Linked DNA regions of Homo sapiens: all the other regions are linked to region 4. Evidence: fine-mapped expression QTL. A gene starts in region 4. Each other region holds a variant in brackets. All regions are shown on one strand. Distances are from middle to middle.

What was found. PIP is the estimated chance that this variant, and not a neighbour inherited with it, causes the effect.
Region 1: its variant is fine-mapped to the expression of RAB37 in prefrontal cortex (GTEx, PIP 0.91).
Region 2: its variant is fine-mapped to the expression of RAB37 in whole blood (TOPMed, PIP 0.96). The same link has a PIP of 0.9 or more in monocytes.
Region 3: its variant is fine-mapped to the expression of RAB37 in whole blood (TOPMed, PIP 0.98).

What each region holds. Positions count from the first base shown.
Region 1 is chr17:74,669,235-74,674,382 of GRCh38, forward strand. It overlaps RAB37-AS1 (RAB37 antisense RNA 1), which reads right to left. Exons shown (of 2, transcript XR_007065904.1): 2 at 826-5,148. It also overlaps a transcript of RAB37 not described here. Among named protein-coding and RNA genes, the nearest start is that of RAB37-AS1, 5.8 kb to the right of the region's middle. The variant G/T (reference allele first, on the strand shown) is at 2,147.
Region 2 is chr17:74,686,741-74,691,888 of GRCh38, forward strand. It overlaps a transcript of RAB37 not described here. Among named protein-coding and RNA genes, the nearest start is that of RAB37-AS1, 12 kb to the left of the region's middle. The variant C/G (reference allele first, on the strand shown) is at 2,146.
Region 3 is chr17:74,565,343-74,570,490 of GRCh38, forward strand. It overlaps CD300H (CD300H molecule (gene/pseudogene)), which reads right to left and starts at 2,167. Exons shown (of 4, transcript NM_001405511.1): 1 at 2,007-2,167. RefSeq lists enhancers at 3,514-4,244, 4,245-4,974. The variant G/A (reference allele first, on the strand shown) is at 2,205.
Region 4 is chr17:74,735,257-74,740,404 of GRCh38, forward strand. RAB37 (RAB37, member RAS oncogene family) reads left to right here and starts at 2,000. Exons shown (of 9, transcript NM_001006638.3): 1 at 2,000-2,109. The coding sequence starts at 2,017. LOC124904057 (a long non-coding RNA gene) reads right to left here and starts at 2,083. Exons shown (of 3, transcript XR_007065905.1): 1 at 2,002-2,083. RefSeq lists enhancers at 1,186-1,245, 1,632-2,355, 2,626-2,715, 3,080-3,802 and silencers at 1,486-1,655, 1,706-1,755, 1,956-2,155.

The DNA.
Region 1 (5,148 bases), 66 kb before region 4:
AGCCATGCCATTTCCCTGCTTGAAGTCCTTCAATGGCTTCACATTGCCCTTAGAATGAAGTTCAAAACTCTTAACATGATCCACATGATCTGGTCCTTATCTATCTCTAGATTGGTCTCCCGTTACCCTTCTCCCATCTTTCTCAGGACTCTAGCCACACTGGTCTTTTCTCAGCTCTTCACACCTTAAAGCCTCTGCATGTATCGATCGCTTTGCCTGGAATCACTCCACCACCACCACCCTCTTCGACTAATGCCCACTTTTCCTTCAGATCTCAGCTTAAACATCATTTCTCATGAAAGTCTTCCATCATCAATTCTGGATTGGTTCAGATCCTCTGCTATTTGCTCTATAAACCTGAACAAACAGAATCATGTTTCTGAAGCTTCAGAACTCCAAACAAGACTCTGAGGAGTGACCCTTCCAAGGAATGTGAGGTTCCAGGCAAAGCCTCTAGAATCTTCTTATCTATAATAGTCAGGGTTGGTGAGGAAGCTCAGGAGAAAGTTAAGATGAGCGAGTCTAAGCTATCCGTTCTGTACTTTTTTTGAGTATAGACAACTTTGAGAACTTAATAAAATCTATGGGATTCATTTCTTCTTCTGGAGATTGCCTCTCCCCCAGAAAAAGTCACAGAAGCAAAATTTTGTGTAATGTTATCAATGTTGCAAAGTTCCCCTAACATCCATTTATCCACCTCACATTAAGAACCCCAACCATTGGATGTTATGTATTTGTCACAGGCTGAAAACAAACAAACAAACAAACAAAAACAAAAACAAAAAAAATCAGCCCAGTGAGAATCTCATAAAACAAACACATTGGTTCCCTAGCTTTGTTCATTTAATCAATGTTCATTGAGTATCTACAGTATAGTGATTCCAGCAATAATAACACCTTATAAATGAAATTTACTTTACAATTTAAAAGAAAATAAAGACTTTTCATGTACATTGTCTCACTCTTCCCCCAAACCCAATAAAGTGGGCATAGATTACTCTACCTATTTTGCAGATGAGAAAACATAAGTAATCCCAGGGAACACGAGTGATCTGGTTCACACAACTCAGCCAAAAAGGAGTGAAACCCAGCAGTAAAACGCACTCTTTTAACCCTAAGCCTGGCTCTTTCCTTCCATGTTGATATTGACTCCAAGGGCCCGTGGCTGGTACTAGGACTTGTCCTTAGTAATCTGATAATAATCCCAGGGGCCACAGTCTCAGCCTCCAGTTCCCATGGTGGTCAGCCTCACGCTCTCATATTCCATGTGATGATGCAATTTTGCCAATCAAAGGTCGCAGCAGCAGGACTCCCCTGACGTATAGGAGAAGTAGCCAGAGCTCTTCATCCCCTGCCAGGAGAGCATAGTAGCTCACATTTATTGAGTTCTTAGTACACGCTGGGCACTGTTCTAGGCTTTTTACATGAATTAACTCATTAAATACTCAGAACAAAACCATGAGGCAGGTACTATTATAATATTATCTCCATTTTGTGGACACTTAGGAAAGATTAATTTGCCCGAGTTTGCACGACTAATAATTTTCAGAATCGAGATTTGAATCCTGGAGCCTGTGCTCCTAACCAAACCACCATCTGCCTCTCCTGAGCCCATTGTCCTTAACTTCTTGCGGTCATGTGTGCTGGAGAGAATGTGATCAAAGCCCTGGACCTTCTCCCTAGGAAAACGCAGGTAAACAGAATTTTGCATATTTCAGGGACTTTGGGGACACCTAAGACCCATCTACTGTCGACCTCAGACTTAGAAGCTCTATTTATCTCATACATCCTGGAGAGAATTGTCCAGGGACAAAAACAGAAGCGCCGCCAGCGCCGCAGGACTTCGCCTCTGCAAACGTGTGAGGAGAGCTGCGCTGCGCTGAGCTGCGTGGTGACGGAGATGCCCGTTCGCTCGGGATCAGGAACGGTGAGCTCCTGGGACCGCAATGCCCTGAGAACGCAGCCGGGTGCTGAGCCTCCGGAGTCCGGTAGCTGAATGAAATACGCAGGGATCACCAGCCGGACCCAAATCTTGCGTCCCTGCCAGCATCCTGGAGTCCTAAGAGGCAGGGATTGGAGCGGACAGGATCTCAGAACTCTGGTCCCGGGCGCACAACGGCGGAGTCGCTGTTCCTGGTGCTGAAAC[G/T]CTCAGTCCTGGAAGAACGTGGCCGCCTGCCCGCCTGGTACCGCGCCGCGGCCGCTGCGGGGAACTGTCCAGTGCTGAAAACGGATGCGGCCCGGCCCGCAGAGCTCAGACCCAAGCCTGCCGCACCCAGCGGAGCTCGAACCGAGCTCCTGGAAGCGCTGACGCAGAGCGCAGGGAGAGCCGGAGCGGCGAGCTCCAAGCCTGGCATGGACCTGCAGAGACCCGATTCCTACCAGGGAGGAGCTGGCCCTGACTTCAACGACCACGTCCTGCATAAGGTAAACATCTCCTGTATTCCTCAACCTAACGTTGGAAGAGGCGCCAGCACCAGGAGTTTTCTCCACTCCCCTGACTTTGCTTTGGGACTTAATGAGAAACTAGCTTGTATCTGTGAGTCTGGGGAGCCCTTTCTGTCTGATCCTGTTTCCTGCTCAAAACAGAGATGCGTGAGCTCTTGGGGAAGGGCTGCCGCCAGAGGCTCAGATGGTCAGAAGCTTCATTCATTCACTTACATCATCTGTGTTCCTTTTTCACCCCCTCCTTCTCCTTGCCTATTTATGCCCCTGGGTGACCCCTGGCACCTTGCTCTCCTAACCCTTGTAGGAGACTGCATTTCTCCCTGTTACATCTGCTAGCAGTGGCCAAATACCTGAATTTCTGGCCAATTTGTCTGAAATTAGATAAATGGTCTGCAGCAGAGATGAACTGCTGTTTTCAAATCAGACTCCCTCATGGCTCCAGAAAGCTTCCCTCCAGCCATGATTCCCTCACAGCCCCTGTAAGCATTTGCTTATTTCAAAGCACTAACATATCCATTGCTTCCTTCACTCAAGTTTCTTATGCAACTCAGTTTTCAGTAATGCAGGTCTCCCCCTAAGATAGTTGTTGGGAAAAATAGTAGCCTCTCTCAGGATAACAGTTTTAATTCAAAATCCATCACTCTGAAATAATCAAAGTGTTATATTTGCCATAAGAAGTTATTATGGCTCACCTTCCTTTTCTCTGACTTTGCCATGCCTTCCTGCTCCAGCCCCTATATTTTCTGCTTTGATAATGCCAGTTCACCTGCTAGTCCTTTGAAAAGCTGTACGTGATCCTATAGGTGGAGTTTTTTAATCAAAACATCACTTTGAAGAGTCTATGAATGCAAGCTTTGAAATAACCTAACCCAACCTCCTCCTCTATCACCCAGCTTATATTTGAGGAAACTAAAATCCAGAGAGGAAAAATGACTTGTCCAAGAAAGCAAGCTGGTAAATGGCAGAGCTGATACTAAAAGCCAGAAATTACTACTACACGTGTAGTATTCTTTCCTCTATATCCTTACTAAACTTCTCATCAAAGTGTGCAGTCCATGGACCAGCAGCATTGGCATTACCTTGGAACTTATTACAATAGAAAGCCCTGACCCTAGATTGGCTGAATCTGAATCTGCATTTTAACAAGATCTCTAGGAATAAATATGCACAATAAAGTTTTAGGTGCATGGCTCTGTGCCATGCTGCCTGTTTCTGACACAAATGAAAGAAAATCAGCTATTGAAGGAAGCAGGTCTCTAGATCTGACAGTCCATGTGTCTTCTCCCTCCAGGTCTCTGAATTCCTAGGATATAGAGAAGGAGAAAAAATGTATAACAACTATCCCAGTCTAGAAATTTTAAAGCCATCACAGTTTGAAGTAAACTAGAAGAAATTCTGTGCTATTTGATGTTGTCAATTTAGCCCAGTAAAAACTGCATGCAAGGCCAGGCATGGTGGCTCACACCTGTAATCTCAGCACTTTGGGAGGCCGAGGCGGTGGACCGCTTGAGGTCAAGGGTTCAAGACCAGCCTGGCCAACATGGTAAAATCTGTCTCTACTAAAAATACAAAAATTCGCTGGGCATGGTGGTGTGCGCCTGTGATCCCAGCTACTCAGGAGGCTGAGGCAGGAGAATTGCTTGAGCCTGGGAGGCAGAGACTGCAGTGAACCGAAATCACACCACTGCACTCCACTCTAGCCTGGGCAACAAAGCAAGACCTTGTCTCAAAAAAAAAAAGAAAAAAAAAGTTTATGCAAGCAGAGGAACATAATTACAAATCAATTACAAAATTTTCCTGGCAACTAGATATGTGGGTCTCTCCAAGTTTATACCATCCTATAAAGGTATAAATACTCATTTTGAAAGCTTTAAGATTGGGAGCTCAGATTGTTCAAAATATTGATCAGATGTGGTATTTTCCATTTCAATTACCCACACACGAGATGTAGGATGTAGTCCATGAAGACTGTTACTTCCTTTGAGTTTATTGATCACCAAATTGAGAGTGGGAACCCATTCCAACAAGTTCCAACATATTTAAAGGCAAGTATCTATTTACTACTAGTAAAGGCTCAATGTCATCAGCTTGGCTGTGTGAGCACCCTGAGAGCAGGAGCCAGCCTTAAACCTTCTGTGGTGCCCAGCAGAGTGACATATGTATGTAAGGAAAGTTTTCCTTCTTATATAGTGCTGACAACCTCCTCCTAATACTACTTTATGATTGTGCATGATGTTTTATTGTGATCCACTTAAAACTCTTTTTGTAAAGGGGTAGGGCATCAACTTATTTGTATTATATTAAAAATTACTATGTAGTAGAGTCCAAGGAGTTCCCATTGATTGATTAGTGTCTATTGTCCATGAGAAGCAGGGCTCCCCTCCAACATTAATTGCTAGGATAAATTCTTTTTTTGAAGTGGGGTCTCAGTCTGTCACCCAGGCTGGAATGCAGTGGTGTGATCTCAGCTCACTGCAACCTCTGCCTCCCAGGCAAGTGATTCTCCCACCTCAGCCTCCCCAGTAACTGGAACTGCAGGCATGTGCCACCATGCCTGGCTAATTTTTTGGCAGTTGTTGTTTTGTAGAGACAGAGTTTCACCATGTTGGCCAGGCTGGTCTTGAACTCCTGGCCTCAAGAGATCCACCCGCTCGGCCTCCCAAAGTGCTGGCATTATATGTATGAGCCACCATGCCCAGCGTG
Region 2 (5,148 bases), 49 kb before region 4:
CTTTCCCTTGCCACCTGCCAGACAGCTGGATGTTACAGTGCAAGGATGCAAGGTCTCTGGGTCGCAGTCCTTCTTTGCTTATTATTAATTTTGCAGAGGCTGTGTGAAGTTTGAAATAAGTGCACCGTCTGAATTTCACAACTCTTTCCACTGAACTGAGGGAAGGCACCGGGCAGTATAGCTGAGATCAGGGCCTGTGACCTGTTGCTTCTTTGTCGTGGAAACCCTCTGCGTCATTGATAGAGGGCAGCATTCTGCATGTAAATGCCAACAAGTGCCAGTGCTCTGCTCTGCTCATAGCAGATTTCTACTACACAAGGGTGCAGAATGTCCCTCCTGTATTTCTGACCTTGGGGGACAGTCTTTCCCCTCCCTTAATTCTGAGCCCCTCCTCAGAGGTACCTTCAGAAAAACAAATGAGTCAGTCACCTTTTCTTTTTATTTATTCAGTTTATTTTATTTATTTATTTTATTTTTATTTATTTATTTATTTATTTATTTGAGATGGAGTCTTGCTCTATCTCCCAGGCTGGAGTGCAATGGCACGATCTTGGCTCACTGCAACCTCCATCTCCCAGGTTCAAGCAATTCTCCTTTCTCGGCCTCCCAAGTAGCTGGGATTACAGGGGCCCGCCACCACACCCAGCTAATTTTTGTATTTTTAATAGAGATGGGGTTTCACCATGTTGGCCAAGCTGGTCTCAAACTCCTGACCTCAGGTGATCCACCTGCCTCGGCCTCCCAAAGTGCTGGGATTACAGGCGTGAGCCACCACACCCAGCCAAGTCACCCTTTCTTGATGCAAGAGTTGCAGACCCTCAGGACAGAGCCATGTGAGGATATGGTCACAGTGGACTACTTTGGGGAAGGGGCTTGTGCTGGGGCAGGGGGAATCTGATTGCTTCAAGGGTCCCTTTCACAACTACTGGAGAGCTCCACAGCTCTCATTAGTGACAACCTTCATCAGCCTCCAAACAAAGAGGGTCACTAGAGGCCCTCAGGGGAAGCCTCACTACACCAGCGGAGATGTGATGGAGCGGGTCCATGCCTGGAGAACAGTGTGAACCGGATCCATGGCTGCCAATTCTCAGTCCATACCTAAGTACCAGCCCCTGACAAGTACCAACTGATGTGTAGGAAACGATACACACACATCAGTAGATGTTGGCATAAAGTTACCAACTGTCCTTTCTTAGGAAATACTGTCTATTATCCTGAGACTTGGGGTGCTCAAAGCTCCTTTCTTTTATGAAATTATGGTGACAATGGATTGTTGAATAGAAACTTTGTTAAGCAACCCCTCACTTAACCAACTTATTAGGTCAACCAATACCCTTCAGTCTCTTACTGGAGCACACTGACTAAGCCTGAGGCACAGAGTGCTCACAGCTGGCAGGCTCTTCTCTGCTCTCACAGTTGTGGTACCTGGTTAACAAGAATGCATTTGGGCCCATACTTGCTTATGCTGGTCATACGTGTTAACTAGAATGATGTACTTGAATCAATTCACCTGTAAACAAAGGAATTGGCCGGGCGTGGTGGCTCACGTCTGTAATCCCAGCACTTTGGGAGGCCAAGGCAGGGGGATTACCTGAGGTCAGGAGTTCGAGACCAGCCTGGCCAACATGGTGAAACCCTGTCTCTACTAAAAAATACAAAAAAATTAGCCAGGCATGGTGGCAGGTGCCTGTAATCCCAGCTACTTGGGAGGCTGAGGCAGGAGAATTGCTTGAACCTGGGAGGCTGAGGTTGCAGTGAGCTGAGATCACGCCACGGCACTCCAGCCTGGGTGACAGAGAAAGACTGCACCTCAAAAAAAAAAAAAAGAAAAGAAAAGAAAAAGAAAATACAAAGGAATTTAAACAGAAAGACTATTGACCAATAAAATAAGAGTGTAAAAAAAAAGAGAACGGTTATCTCTACAAAAACTAAACTGCTTTGGAAAGACACTATAAAAGCCTGTCACTTTTTAAAATGCTATCAAATTAGGAATGAATGAGAGAACTGTAAAATATCGGAAAGAAATGCATAAAAATGAAGAAAGATTTTGCAATCAGGTGGCTTCATAAGTTTCTAGAATTTCTTGCTTCATGTTAAAGAAACTGGAACTGAAACCCCAGGATCATGTGTGTGTGGTTTGTGCTT[C/G]AGGAAAGGCAATGGGCCCCACTTTTCAGCAGACTTGTAAGCAAAGCAAAGGCTTTAGGTCTACATCAAAATACTTGCTAATAACTACACATTTAGATATTTTAAGTCAAAATAAAACATGTAGAGGAAAAATAGCCTTGGCGCAGTGGCTCAAACCCGTAATCTCAGCACTTTGGAAGGCTGAGGCAGATGGATTACTTGAAGTCAGTTCAAGACCAGCCTGGCCAACATGGTGAAACCCTGTCTCTACTAAAAATACAAAATTAACCAGGTGTGGGCGAGTGTGGTAGCTGACACCTGTAATCCCAGCACTTTGGGAGGTCGAGGTGGGCAGATCACCTGAGGTCAGAAGTTCAAGACCAGCCTGACCAACATGGTGAAGCCCCGTTTCTACTAAAAATACAAAAATTAGCCAGGCATGGTGGCACATGCCTGTAATCCCAGCTACTTGGGAGGCCGAGGCAAGAGAATCGCTTGAAGTCGGGAGGCAGAGGTTGTGGTGAGCCAAGATTGCGCCACTGCACTCCAGCCCGGGTGACAGAGCAAGACTCTGTCTGGAAAAAAAAAGAAAAAAGAAAGAAAGAAAAGAAAAAATACAGTATATCTCTTTTATGAGTTCCGGGTTTAACAAACTTTTTCAATGAACTGACCAATTACCAATTCCTGTGAAATTGAATAAGAATTTACCTACTTGGTTCAGACATATTTGACTTTGGCAAAGAAAACTGAAAAGCTAAAAAAAATGTGCCTACTTGGTAGAATAAAAGGCTGATCACTGTATCTGTCCTTGCCAATCTAAAAAATTTATTGGTACATGAAATCAACCGATTCCAGCAGTCTCCCCTTTCCAAGGCTAAGCAGCTTTGAGCTCTATTTTTCAAGATGTCAAGCAAAGGTAGCCTTTCACCTCACTTGAGTGCAAATTTATCTTACTCATGGATTTTGGAGGTTGCCAACTCAGTAGTTTTTTTTTCTCCCTCAACTACTCTCAAACAGTACTATCTTCTGAAAGCCAATGATATGCACATAGTTCTCAAAAGGAGGCTGTCCAAAGCTTACAGGCTTATCAAGTGGAATCTTTTTTGACATGAGGCCTCACTCTGTCCCTGAGGCTGGTGTGCAGTGGTACCATCTCGGCTCACTGCAGCCTCAACTTCCTACGTTCAAGCGATCCTACCCCCTCAGCCTCTGGAGTAGCTGGGTCTACAGTCGTGCACAACCACACCCAGCTGATTTTTTATTTTTGGTGGAGATATCCTTTTTGTAGGCCTCCCTATGTTGCTCAGGCTGGTCTCAAACTCCTGGGCTCAATCGATCACCCACCTTGGCTTCCCAAAGTGCTGAGATTAGAGGCATGAACCACGATGCCTGGCCTGGAATCTTTAAATATTAATAATTCAAAAACCAAGAAGGGAAGCCCCAGCAACTTTAGATGGCTATAAATAATTAGGCACTCAATCAGGATTGAGTGCTTAGAAATCTTGGAGTTTGTTTTAACACAATGTGCTTTCCTGGAAATCATATAACAAGATAGTAAATGCTACCCTCACTCAGACCTGAGGAACCATATTTAAGATGGTTCCTCTTGCAATAAACGTGCTGGCCAGCCACCCAAATTCTGCCTTAGCAAAGTCATGATGGGGTGCGGGGATACGGCTGAGATGACACCCAGATACAAATCTATAGACATTATGAAACAATTTCCTTTCCTGCCTCTTGCGTATATCTGCCTCCCTCCTCTCGCCCCAGCTACTTCTCTAGCACTCTAAACTCTAGCTCAGGCTTGAGCAAACCGGGCTGGATTAGCAGCTGACTCCTACAGTCATAGCACTGCACAGAGAGAACCCAGACACTTCCTATCAGGACCACAAGGCAGAGATCTGCTCTGTCCAGCTCTGGAATTGACTGGACTGGCTCATGACTGTCAACCTATTTCTGAGAACATAAAAAGGTCCCTTTCAGACTGCCACCAATTCAGAGGGCTAGAATTTTAGATAAAAACAGTATATCCAGTAATCTGTTCTCTCTTGTAGACACTTCCTCGTTTTTTTGAGACAGGGTCTCGTTCTGTCACCGAAGCTGGAGTGCAGTGGCATGATCACAGCTCACTGCTGCCTAGAACTCCAGGGCTCAACTGATCCTCCTGCCTCAGCCTCCCAAGTAGCTGGGACCACAGACGCCTGGCTAATTTTTTTAATTTTTTTGTAGAGATAGCAATCCTCAAGCAATCCTCCTACCTCAGCCTCTGGAGTAGCTGGGACTGCAGGCGTGCGCCACCACACCCAGCTAATTAATTAATTATTGTAGGTCTCCCTGTGTTGCCCAGGCTGCTCTCGAACTCCTGGGCTCAATCAATCACCTGCCTTGGCCTCCCAAAGTGCTGGGATTAGAGTTGTAAGCCACCATGCCTAGCCCAGAATCGTTAAGAATTAATAATTCAAAAACCAAGGGAGGGAAACCCCAGTAACCTTAGATGGGTTTATCACGTTGCCCAGGCTTGTCTCAAACACCTGGACTCAAGTGATCCTCCTGGCTAAGCCTTCCAAAGCACTGGGATTACAAACGTGAGCCACCATGCCCGGCCTGTAGACACCTTTTTTCAAAGTTTGACTAAGGCAACCAAAAGGGATCAGAATGGATCGGTCTTCCCATGCTGTTTCACTGCTCTTCAGCAGCCCATGTCCACCATCCAGATGAAGGTAGAAGCAGCCCAATTCCTCCAGCCAAGCCAAATTGAGCTAAATTCTAGTCTTCCCTGTGCGTCTAGCTTAATGTCAGAAGTTTCATGGCAATAATCTTCACTGGGATCTATGATTTTATATTACCAGAAAAGATGAATCCGTTTCTATCCAACATAAGCATATACTTATACATTCTGGGTAGTGCTGGCTGCTTGAAATAAACTCTGAAATAAATCCACTTTATGCACAATAGTTGAAATGGCACAGTTACGCTCTGATCTAAGGCCTTATGTTATGCCATTTTTTTTTTTTTTTTTGAGAC
Region 3 (5,148 bases), 170 kb before region 4:
GGTTTTGGCAAAATACCAAGCTCCTGAAAAGGAATTGTGGATGTAATCTGTCTACCTATCAACTATCTATCTATCTATCTATCTATCTATCTATCTATCTATCTACTATCTATCCATCCATCCATCTTTCATCTACCCACCCATCCATCTAGGTAATATATTGCCATCCACTGATGGAGAGGCTTTGCTATATTTTTATTGTGAATTAAAAGAAAAATCTGGCCAGGTGTGGTGGCTCATGCCGATAATCCCAGCACTTTGGGAGGCCGAGGCAGGTGGATCACCTGAGGTCAGGAGTTTGAGACCAGCCTAACCAACACGATGAAACCCTGTCCCTATCGAAAATACAAAAAATTAGCCGGGCGTGGTGGTGGGTGCCTGTAATCCAGCTACTCAGGAGGCTGAGGGAGGAGAATCACTTGAACCCAGGAGGTGGAGGTTGCAGTGAGCCGAGATCGCACCACTGCACTCCAGCCTGGGCGACAGAGTGAGACTCTGTCTCAAAAAAAAAACAGGAAAACTTTATCTTTTGCATCTTCATTTTCTTATCTCACGTTTTCTCACTTTATTTCCCAGAAAGCAGGCTCGAGTGGCCCACTGACCTATTCTGCATTAGAAAGCTGTCTGCCTCTCTGAAGCAGTGATTCTCACCTGGGGGGCAGGGGGGCGGGGAGGGGGCGGGGGGGCAGGGGGGCGGGCGGGAGAACATTTGGTAATGACTACAGATATTTTTGGTTGTCCCAACTTAGGGTGGGGAATTGCTGCTGGCATCTGGTGGGTAGAGGCCAGGGATGCTTCTAAACATCTTACAATGCACAGGACAGCCCCCAACACACAGAATAACGCAGCCCCAAATGTCCACAGTGTTGAGGTCCACGAGCTTTCCCAGGGAGCTAACTGCCTGCCAGGCACAGGCTTAGGAGCAAGGAAGGGGTGGGCACACCCAGTCCTCTCCTGAAATCGCTGCTGCTCTCAGCTCAGGCTCTGGGGGCGCTGTTAGCCTGCTCTTTCAGGTCCTTAAACTTCTCTCTTAATGATTTGGGGCTAATTCCACAAGGAGCAAAAACATTGTGGGGCACACACTGAATCCCACCACAGAGCCTCCCTCTCCTTGGATATTCAGTCCAGACCCTGACTCTGAGCCAACATGGGCAGCCTCCTCCACCTCCACCCCCACCATCTTTTACGGAGCTTCCCGCCTACCCAGCCTTGCAAAGAAACTGACTTTCTCCCTCCACCATCATTTACGGAAACTCTCGGACCAGGGCTGACCACAGGTTCCCAGCTGTCTCACCCTTCTGGGGGCCCATTAAGTAGCAGCCCTGGGGCCAGCCCAGACCTGTGGGGACACCCAGGGTTCCCACGTGGGGATGCAGCATATGCCTCCAGATATGTAAGTGAAGCTTTACAAGGAGGCGCAGCAGACATTGACATTGAATTAGAGAAGGAGCAATGATCTTGGAAATAAAAGTATTTAGGTTTGGACCTTGACTGTGCCTTTTATAAACTGTTTAATCTAAATTATTTGCACCTCTAAGAGCGAGCTTCGGTCTCTTGTTTTCATCAGGATTGCAATAAGAATTAAATGAGATAGTGGGAAACAAGATATGTATTACAGTGATTAGCCTAGTAAGTACTGGTTTTCTGTCCCCTATTCCCCCTTCTCTCTGATGGATCGTGGTGGCATTCCTGATCTTAATAATGACGGTAATAATGATTAAAGTTGCCAAATCTACTTAGGGCTTACTGTGTGGGAAGCAGTTTACCGTTTAATCCCCACCCTATCCCGATAAGGAGATTTGAGAAGCTTCTATGCACACCTCACTCCCTCTTTCTTGATATCATTTCTTCCTCTTGCCCCTCGCCAGCCTTTTCTCATGCCTGCCTCACCCTGACCCGCCAGAGCAGACCTCCCTGCACCCAGGACCTGCCCTGCTCATCTGGGACACAGAGAAGGAGCAGAGCTGAAGGCAGCATGGCAGCCCCAGCCCTCTGGGTCATCTCACCAGCATGGAAGTCCCTTGTGGCAGCAGGGTCTGAGGCTCTTTTTCCTTCTCACATCTCTCGTTTCCTTCTCTGGCCTCTTCTGGGTTTGGTTCTCAGAGCTGGTGAGAGTATGGAGGAAGCTGGGGCCATGGGGCACTATGTGGTCAGGTGAAACAATTTTGAGAACTTGCTGAAGTTCTTCCTAATAAAACATGTTT[G/A]CATTTGCTGTTCCTCTTTCTGTTCCCAGTAAAGACAATGTCCCTCCCATTACCCACAGCTGACAGGCCTGCCCTTCTCCAAATCACAGCATGGCCCAGGACCAGTGAGACTGGGCCAGCTGCCATCTGGATTTTCTGGGCAGGTCCTCCCCTCTGTGAATGGCCAGTTTTCTGTGGCCAGCATGAGCCGCCCCAGGGTATGGCTCAGCCTTCACTGGATGGATGAGACTGGCTATTTGCAGAGCCCAGTGTAAAATCAAACCTAGGTTTCCAAAATTATTAAGAATTTCAAGATGGTGACAGCCAAGCATGAAACGTGGGACCCTTCTAAGAGCCGGGCCTGCGAGACTGCACAGGGTAGGGGCACACCCACGATGCCCGCTGGTCTATCTCTGATCCTTGGTGGTACAGATAGGCTGGGTGCAACCTCAGAGGCTCTGACCTCTTAACCCCTCACTCTTGCTCTGACCTCAGCAGACCCCAGAGGTCCCTGTCTTGGCCACGTGCCTGACTGTTTCCACAGACCTGGCACCACGCAGAGCTTGGTGGACCATCTATAAGCCTTGCTTTTGACCTGTGTGGCTCTTCCTGTCGCCCAAGATGACCACATATAAGAGTTTCAATATATCAAGAGCTAACTCGGGGGAACCTGGCCAGAAGTGTGCCTGATATACACAGAATGGCTGTGGAGGATTTATAAATGCAAGCACAGCTTCAGAAGGCCTCACTCAGGGACTTAGATTTCTGGAACTAGGAGACTCCAAATTCCTGGCATTCTGTTATCAAATGTCTCCTCCTTGGTGTTTCAGTAAATGTGTTTCCTGCTTGTTCATTTTTTGCTGCATGTGGAGTCCTCATATTTCTGTGTGTGTTCACATGTGTGTATATGGGTGTGGTATGAGGGATATATGTGTAGTGTGTGTGGTGTGGGTAGTGTGTGTAGTATGTGTGGTATGTGTGTATGTAGGTACATGTGATGTATGTGCATGGTGTGTGGGATGGTGTGTGTGTAGTGTGTGTGTATGTGTGGTGTGAGTGGTGTGTGTGAGATGTGTGTAGTGTGTGTGTATGTGTGTGGTGTTTGGGGTCGTGTGTGTGGTGTGAGTGGTGTGTGTGGTGTGGGTGGGATGTGTGTAGTGTGTGTATGTGTGTACATGTGGTGTATGTGTGTGATGTGTGGGGTGGGGTGCATGTAGTGTGTGTGTTTGCATGTGTGTGTGGTGTGTGTGCACAGGTGGTGTGTGTGTAGTGTGTATGTGTGTGCACGTGTGTGGTGTGAGATGTGTGTACATGTGGTGTATATGTACAGTATGTGGGGTAGGGTGTGTGTAATGTGTGTGTGGTGTGTGTGATGTGAGTGGTGTGTATGAGATGAGATGTGTGTAGTGTGTATGTGTGTACGTGTGTGTGGTGTGTTGGGTGGTGTGTGTAGTGTGTATATGTGTGCATGTGTGGGAGTGTATGTGGTGTGTGCGTGTCCATGTGTGGTGTACGTGTGTGGTATGTGGGGTGGTGTGTGGTGTATGTGTGTGGTATGTGGGGTGATGTGTGTAGTGTATGTATGTGTGTGCATGTGTGGGCGTGGAGGGTGTGGGTGGTGTGTGTGTACATGTGGTGTATGTGTGTGGTGTGTGTATGTGTGTGCATGTGTGGGGGGTGTGGGTGGTGTGTGTCTACATGTGGCGTATGTGTGTGGTGTGTGGGGTGGTGTGTGCATGTGTGGGCGTGGGGAGGTGTATGGGTGTGTGTGTGTGTACATGTGGTGTATATGTGTGGTGTGTGGGTTGGTGCGTGCATGTGTGTGGAGGGGAAGCAGGAGCTGGGAGTGATAAAGATGTCTCCCCTTGCAGCCTGCAGAGCCGGTTGCGAGCCCCGCCCTCTGTGCCTAGCTCTGGGCGCTAAGGAAAGGCTTGCCTGGCCCTCCCTGACTCTGCGTCAAGGGCTGCTCAACGTGCCTTTCTTGGGAAGAAGGGATCTGAGTCTGTGAAGGAGATGACGCACAGCTGCAGACTTTTCCAGAAAACATTCTCGCCATCCTTGTCTGGACAAACCACCGGGTGCACAGGGTTGTATTAGTCAGCTCTTTCTGGCTCACATTGCCATAGCAAAACTCCTAATCCCAGCATGCTGTAACCACAGAAGCTTGTTTCTCGCTCGTCTATACGCAAGCGGTGAGTCAGCATTGCTTGGGCACCAGGCTGCGGAGCCCAGTCCGCTAGAGGAGAGGGAAGGCACCGGGTGGCTCTCTGAGCCTCTGCTCAGAAGGCGCACATGCGGCTCCTGCTCACCGTTCATCGTCATAGGGTCAAGCCTGAAGTCAGTGGGAAGGAGAAGCACAGTCCTCTTACAGGACAAGGCGGCAAGTCACTGACCACAACCACAGAACCCACTACTGGAGGTTCCCTAACCGGGCTGGAAGGGTGCCCCGCAGCACACCGACTCCGTGCTTCTCGCTCATCCAAGGTCGGGGCAGGGAGAGGCTGCAGGGTCTGCTTAGAAACAGCCTGTGTGTGTTTCATTTTTTTAGCTAGGACCAGACAGTTTGCCAAATGCAAAGGACATGGCAATGCCACAGGGAACCCACCTTTGAAGCAGATGTACTCTGGGCCCTGGAGTCCCCCAGGAGATGACAAATTCCTTGAAGAGATGACCCACATCTGGGACATCCAGGCTTTTTCCATGTCAAGGCCAGCATCTGGAGCCGCTGTCCCTTCCCCAGCAGGCCCTTGTCCTTCTGTCTCTGAAACCTGTCCTGGAAAATGCTGTCCGCTCCAGGAGGGCAGAGCTAGGGGAGGACTGAGAATAATGAACACTGGCCATGAGGCACAGGAGGGCGGGGAGCCCGGGGCCCTGCCTGGCACTGCACCACACTGAGACCCCCACCATCGCTGCCCTTGAGGGACAGCTCTTGGGGCTTCCAGAAAGTTAAGATCTCATCAGTGAG
Region 4 (5,148 bases):
AGGCCAGGTGCGGTGGCTCACGCTTGTAATCCCAGCAATTTGGAAGGCCAAGGCAGGCGTATCGCCTGAGGTCAGCAGTTCCAAACCAGCCTGTCCAACATGGTGAAGTTCTCTACTAAGAATACAAAAATTAGCCAGGCGTGGTGGCGTGCACCTGTAGTCCCAGCTGCTCCAGAGGCTGAGGCAGGAGAATTGCTTGAACCTGGGAGGCAGAGGCTGCAATGCGCCAAGATCCCGCCACTGCACTCCAGCCTGGGCGACAGAGTGAGACTCCGTCTCCGGGAGCCCACGGCATTGAGCAAACCTCGGCATTATTTGCAGCAAGAGCCTCTGGCATCCAAATAGCAACCAACACCACGCCTCTGTAGTGTGCTGCGCAGCCTCCACACTCCAGTCTGAGGCTCCCTGTTTGAGTCCCGCCCTATGCCCAGCTGAGGTTATAGCACGCTCACCTCCAGAAGAGGTAACCCAAGCTCTTTACTCTACTGGAGATCACCTCTGTCCCCACTCTGGGCGCTTCTCCCAGCTGACAGAAAATACCTCCAGCTGATGTCAGAAAATACAGGGCTGGAGGCTGGCGTACAAAGTCAGTCCCCACAGGCCTATGGTGGCCCATAAGCCACGTCTACCCCTGCTCCTCACCTCCACACCTAAGTTAAGAATTGCAGGCCGGGCGCAGTGGCTCACGCCTGTAATCCCAGCACTTTGGGAGGCTGAGGTGGGCGGACCGCCTGAGGTCAGGAATTTGAGACCAGCTTGGCCAACATGGCAAAACCCCGTCTCTACTAAAAATACAAAAAGAAAAAATAGCCGGGCCTGATGTCGCGCACCTGTAATCCCAGCTACTCCGGGAGACTGAGGCGGGAGTATAGCTTGAACCCGGGAAGCAAAGGTTGCAGTGAGGCGAGATCGCACCACTGCACTCCAGGCTGGGCGACAGAGTGAGACTCTGTCTGAAAAAAAAAAAAAGTGCAGGTACCCCTCTCCAGCTCTCCCCTCCCTACACATCCCTCAAACCGTCCCGCTGTAATGCACCCGCCCTGTTCCTTGGTAACTTGAAGCTGCTTATAGAATGTGGAGATGGGGGTAATTGAAAGGTCGGCCCAGGCCACAGAGCCCCTGAGCTCTGCTACCGGCAACCCCAGCTGCACTCCCCACTCTCTGTCACCAGGAGCTGCCGGGTGCCTGGGATATCCTGGCAGCTCTGCTCAAAATGATCTACGACTTCATGAATTTATTTGGCTCCTCCTCGGGGCCAGGGTGAGTGTCATGGGTTAATAAGGCCGGCCCCGCCTTCAGGAGCGGTCCACTGGGAGATGTGTGCTGCGCAGCCCTCTTGCGAAAGCTCTCCCCTGGTGGGACATTCTGGGCACAACCAACAGGCCGGGGGAAATGAGAGGTGATCCATACTAAAGGGTCAAAGTCCCCGCACCAGGCAGAGGCCCCAAAACACCGCAGCGTACATGTGCTGCAAGGCGAGTACGGGTTGGTAAACAAAACTATATTCAGATGAGCTCGGGCCGGGTGACTTAACAGATGAGGAAGTGTCTCGGGGCCATCGGCGGAGGCGCAGCCCAGGGGTCCCCAGCTCCCCGCCTCGCCACCTGGGGACAGCCCACGGCCCGGGGCTCGGGCGCCGCCTGCTGTCGCGGTGCGCAGCGACTACGGGAACTCTTCCGCAGCAGACGGGGTCCCCGCGGCCCGCTCCCCCAGGGGCAAGCAAGCGACCACAGGGGACCGGTCCCGGGGCTGGATGTGGCTCATGTCCGAAGCGCACGGAGCCGAGCCGGTGTTGCTCAGGGAGGCTGCCCGCCCCTTCACGCAGACCCTGCGGCTCTGCGTGCCCTCAGGGAACAGCAAGGTCCGAGCCGGTGTCGTCGAGGGGGCGACGGGACGGAGGGAGGAGCCTGAGGGGTCCCGGTCGAGGGAGGGGAGGAGTGGGCGGGGCGGGGGTGGGGCCGTTCCTGCGCTCTCCTTCGCCTGCGGGCCGGCACTGCTCACCTCTCGTCCAGGGACATGACGGGCACGCCAGGCGCCGTTGCCACCCGGGATGGCGAGGCCCCCGAGCGCTCCCCGCCCTGCAGTCCGAGCTACGACCTCACGGGCAAGGTGGGTGGGCCTCTTCCGTGAGACCCCCGCCCTCCTCGGCGCTAGCCCCTTCCTGGCTGCGTCTGGGTTGGACTCAGCCCTTCCCCCAGGCAGCTGCGTCTCCCAGAGGAGGGAGGGAGAGAGGGTCAGGACACAGCCTCTGGGGCCGTCCCAAGCTCTAGGTGTCTCTGCTGGCTTGGTGGGGGCGGGTCGCGGAAGATCGCAAAAACTGAGTGATCCCCCCGCCGGCCCCAACTCAGTTCTCTTCTGCCACACTCTGGCAAATATGAGCCCCCGGGAGCCCATGCTTCTTGGTGAGGGTTAAGCGCGCAACTCTCGGGGCTCAGGCTGGGAAGGGCTGGGAGATGGGGACCGAACGGAGACTCGGAGAGGACGTCCCCTGCTGGCAGAGGAACTGGCGTTAATGCCATTTTCCGAGCTAAGCTCTTAGTTGAGATCTGACATCCAGGTTTAAGGCCTGATGTCCCCCAGCTGCTCCCCTCCCATTCCACCCGCTGGAGGCACTGCCTCCCACCTTCCTCCCTGCAGTCGGAAGCCGCTCCTCCCAGAAGGATGTTGCCAGCCGGCCTGCAGGTCACTTGGGAATTTTTCGAACCTGAGAAAGATTTCAGTGGTTGGTCTTTCGCATCCCGCACTTGAGAGAGCTCCAGGGCTGCTCTCTGGGGCTTGCTCCCTCTACAGGGGTGTCCTGTATGGAAACAGGTAGGGACAGCAGTGGACTGGTCTGTCGCCTTCCATCTGTGTCCTTGGAGTGAGCGGGTACCAGAAACTGAAAGAACTGCTGAGGGAGCCTAGAGCTTCCACTCTTCCTCTGCAGGGTTGGGGATGGAGTGAGGGCTGTCCTGGATTCCGCTGCATGGCCTTGAAGGAGACCTGCCTCTCTCTGGGCCTCGGTTTCCTCCCCGACACCAGGGCTCACCCTTGCTGGGAGCCTCAGCCTCCACCCCAGTGTTTCGGGGGAAGCCACCCTGCAAGTCATCCGCCCAGAGCCGTTGAGATAGGCGTCCTGTGTGGGCTTGTGGCAGGAAATGGGCCCCTGCACCCTCGGAGAGGAGGAGCTGCTGTTGGCCAGGCCCCAGGCTGAGGGGGACTGCCTGACCTTGTTGCCCTGCAAACCAGCTGGGTTGTTTGCCTAGGAGGTGGCCAGGCTAGGCAGCTGTTTGTGTTTGGTGGAATCACCGAGCTGGGTGGGTAGCTGGCATCGTTTGCTCAAGGCAGCTGTGATCTGTAAAGTACACAAAGACTGGCCCTCCCTCCCTCCTTCCTGCTCCAGGGCTGGGACCCAGGAGCCAGGGAGGAGTGCAGGCTCCAGAAAGCTCCTATCCCCCACCCCTTCATCTGTTCCCTGGCCAAGCGGCATTGGCCGGAGAGTTGGTCCCCAGCCTCCCCGGGCCTGCCCCAGGGGAGTGAGTCCAGGACCCTCTGAGAAAGCCTGGCAGGAGCTCCTTGGACCAGACTAGGGGTGATGTGGCCCACAGGCAGACAGTTCCCACCCTGGGCCACTCTTCCCTGGGTCTTAGGTGATTCACCACGATGATGGGCCCTAGCCATTAACAGACTCTAGAAATACCTCAAAGACATTATCCCTCCTCCTTCTACCCACTATGGAAACCATGCCACAGAAAGGTTAAGGAATCTTCCTAAAGTCACACAGTAGGCCATTTACAAATCAAGACCCATCCTTCATACCCCTTCTGCTCAGCCACCCCTGCCTCTCCACCAGAGTTAACTAATGCCAGTACCCCATGCCCACAACAGGAATGCCTTTGGGCTCCACTGTCAATTTCAGAGCCTCAAAAATAATTCAAACCTAGTCCCTGCTTAACCCATTAAGCCACCTAACCAGCAGCTGGGAAATTCCAGCATTGGATCTAGACCCCTGTTATCCAAGATTGGAGAACAGTGGGACAAAGTGCTCCTCTCCACCATTCCTGCGTGTCCCTGGGGAAGATGAGCAGAGCAGAGCCAGACAGTAAAGGAGAGGGCCACGCCCCCTCCACAGGTTACCTCCTTGGTACTCCTGCCCGCACTACCCACAGCAACCCCGGGATGCCGATCTGCAGCCACATGTCCCATGTGGGAGGTTTCTGCTGAAAGAACTTCCAACTACACATCTCCCCACTTCAGTATAAATTTCAACCTTCCCTAATTCATGCAACCTTTTTTTTTTTTTTTTTTTTTTGAGACAGAGTGTCGCTCTGTCACCGAGGCTGGAGTTCAGTGATGCAATCTCGGCTCACTGCAACCTCTACCTCCTGGGTTCAAGCTATTCTCCTGTCTCCGCCTCCCAAGTAACTGGGACTACAGGCGTGTGCCACCACTCCTGGCTAGTTTTTTGTATTTTTAGTAGAGATGGGGTTTCACCTTGTTGGTCAGGCTGGTCTCAAACTCCCAACCTCAGGTGATCCGTCCACCTTGGGCACCCAAAATGCTAGGATTACACACATGAGCTACTGCACCCGGCCTCATGCAACCTTTTAATAAACATAAAATGTCATTAGAAACTTCCAGTCAGGCGCGGTGGCTCACGCCCGTAATCCCAGCACTTTGGGAGGCTGAGGCGGGCGGATCACCTGAGGTCGGGAGTTCAAGACCAGCCTGGCCAACATGGAGAAACCCCGTCTCTACTAAAAATAAAAAATTAGCCAGGCGAGGTGGTGCATGCCTATAATCCCAGCTACTCAGGAGGCTGAGGCAGGAGAATCATTTAAACCTGGGAGGTGGAGGTTGTGGTGAGCCAAGATCTCGCCATTGCACTCCAGCCTGGGCAACAAGAGCAAAACTCCATCTCAAAAAAAAAAAGAAAGAAAGAAAGAAAGAAACTTCCAAATAAATGTTGTGACACAAAAAAAAAAACCCAAACAATATTCATTATAGAGTATGCAAATGACCATGCCCCACCCCCAGCAGATTCTGATAGACTCCCTTGGGTGGGAATCCTTGTCCAATATATTGACACTTCCCTTTCCTGTCAGTATAGCCCAGCCCATGCGTGTACTCACGAGCGGACGATGGATGACACAAGTACACAGAGGGACG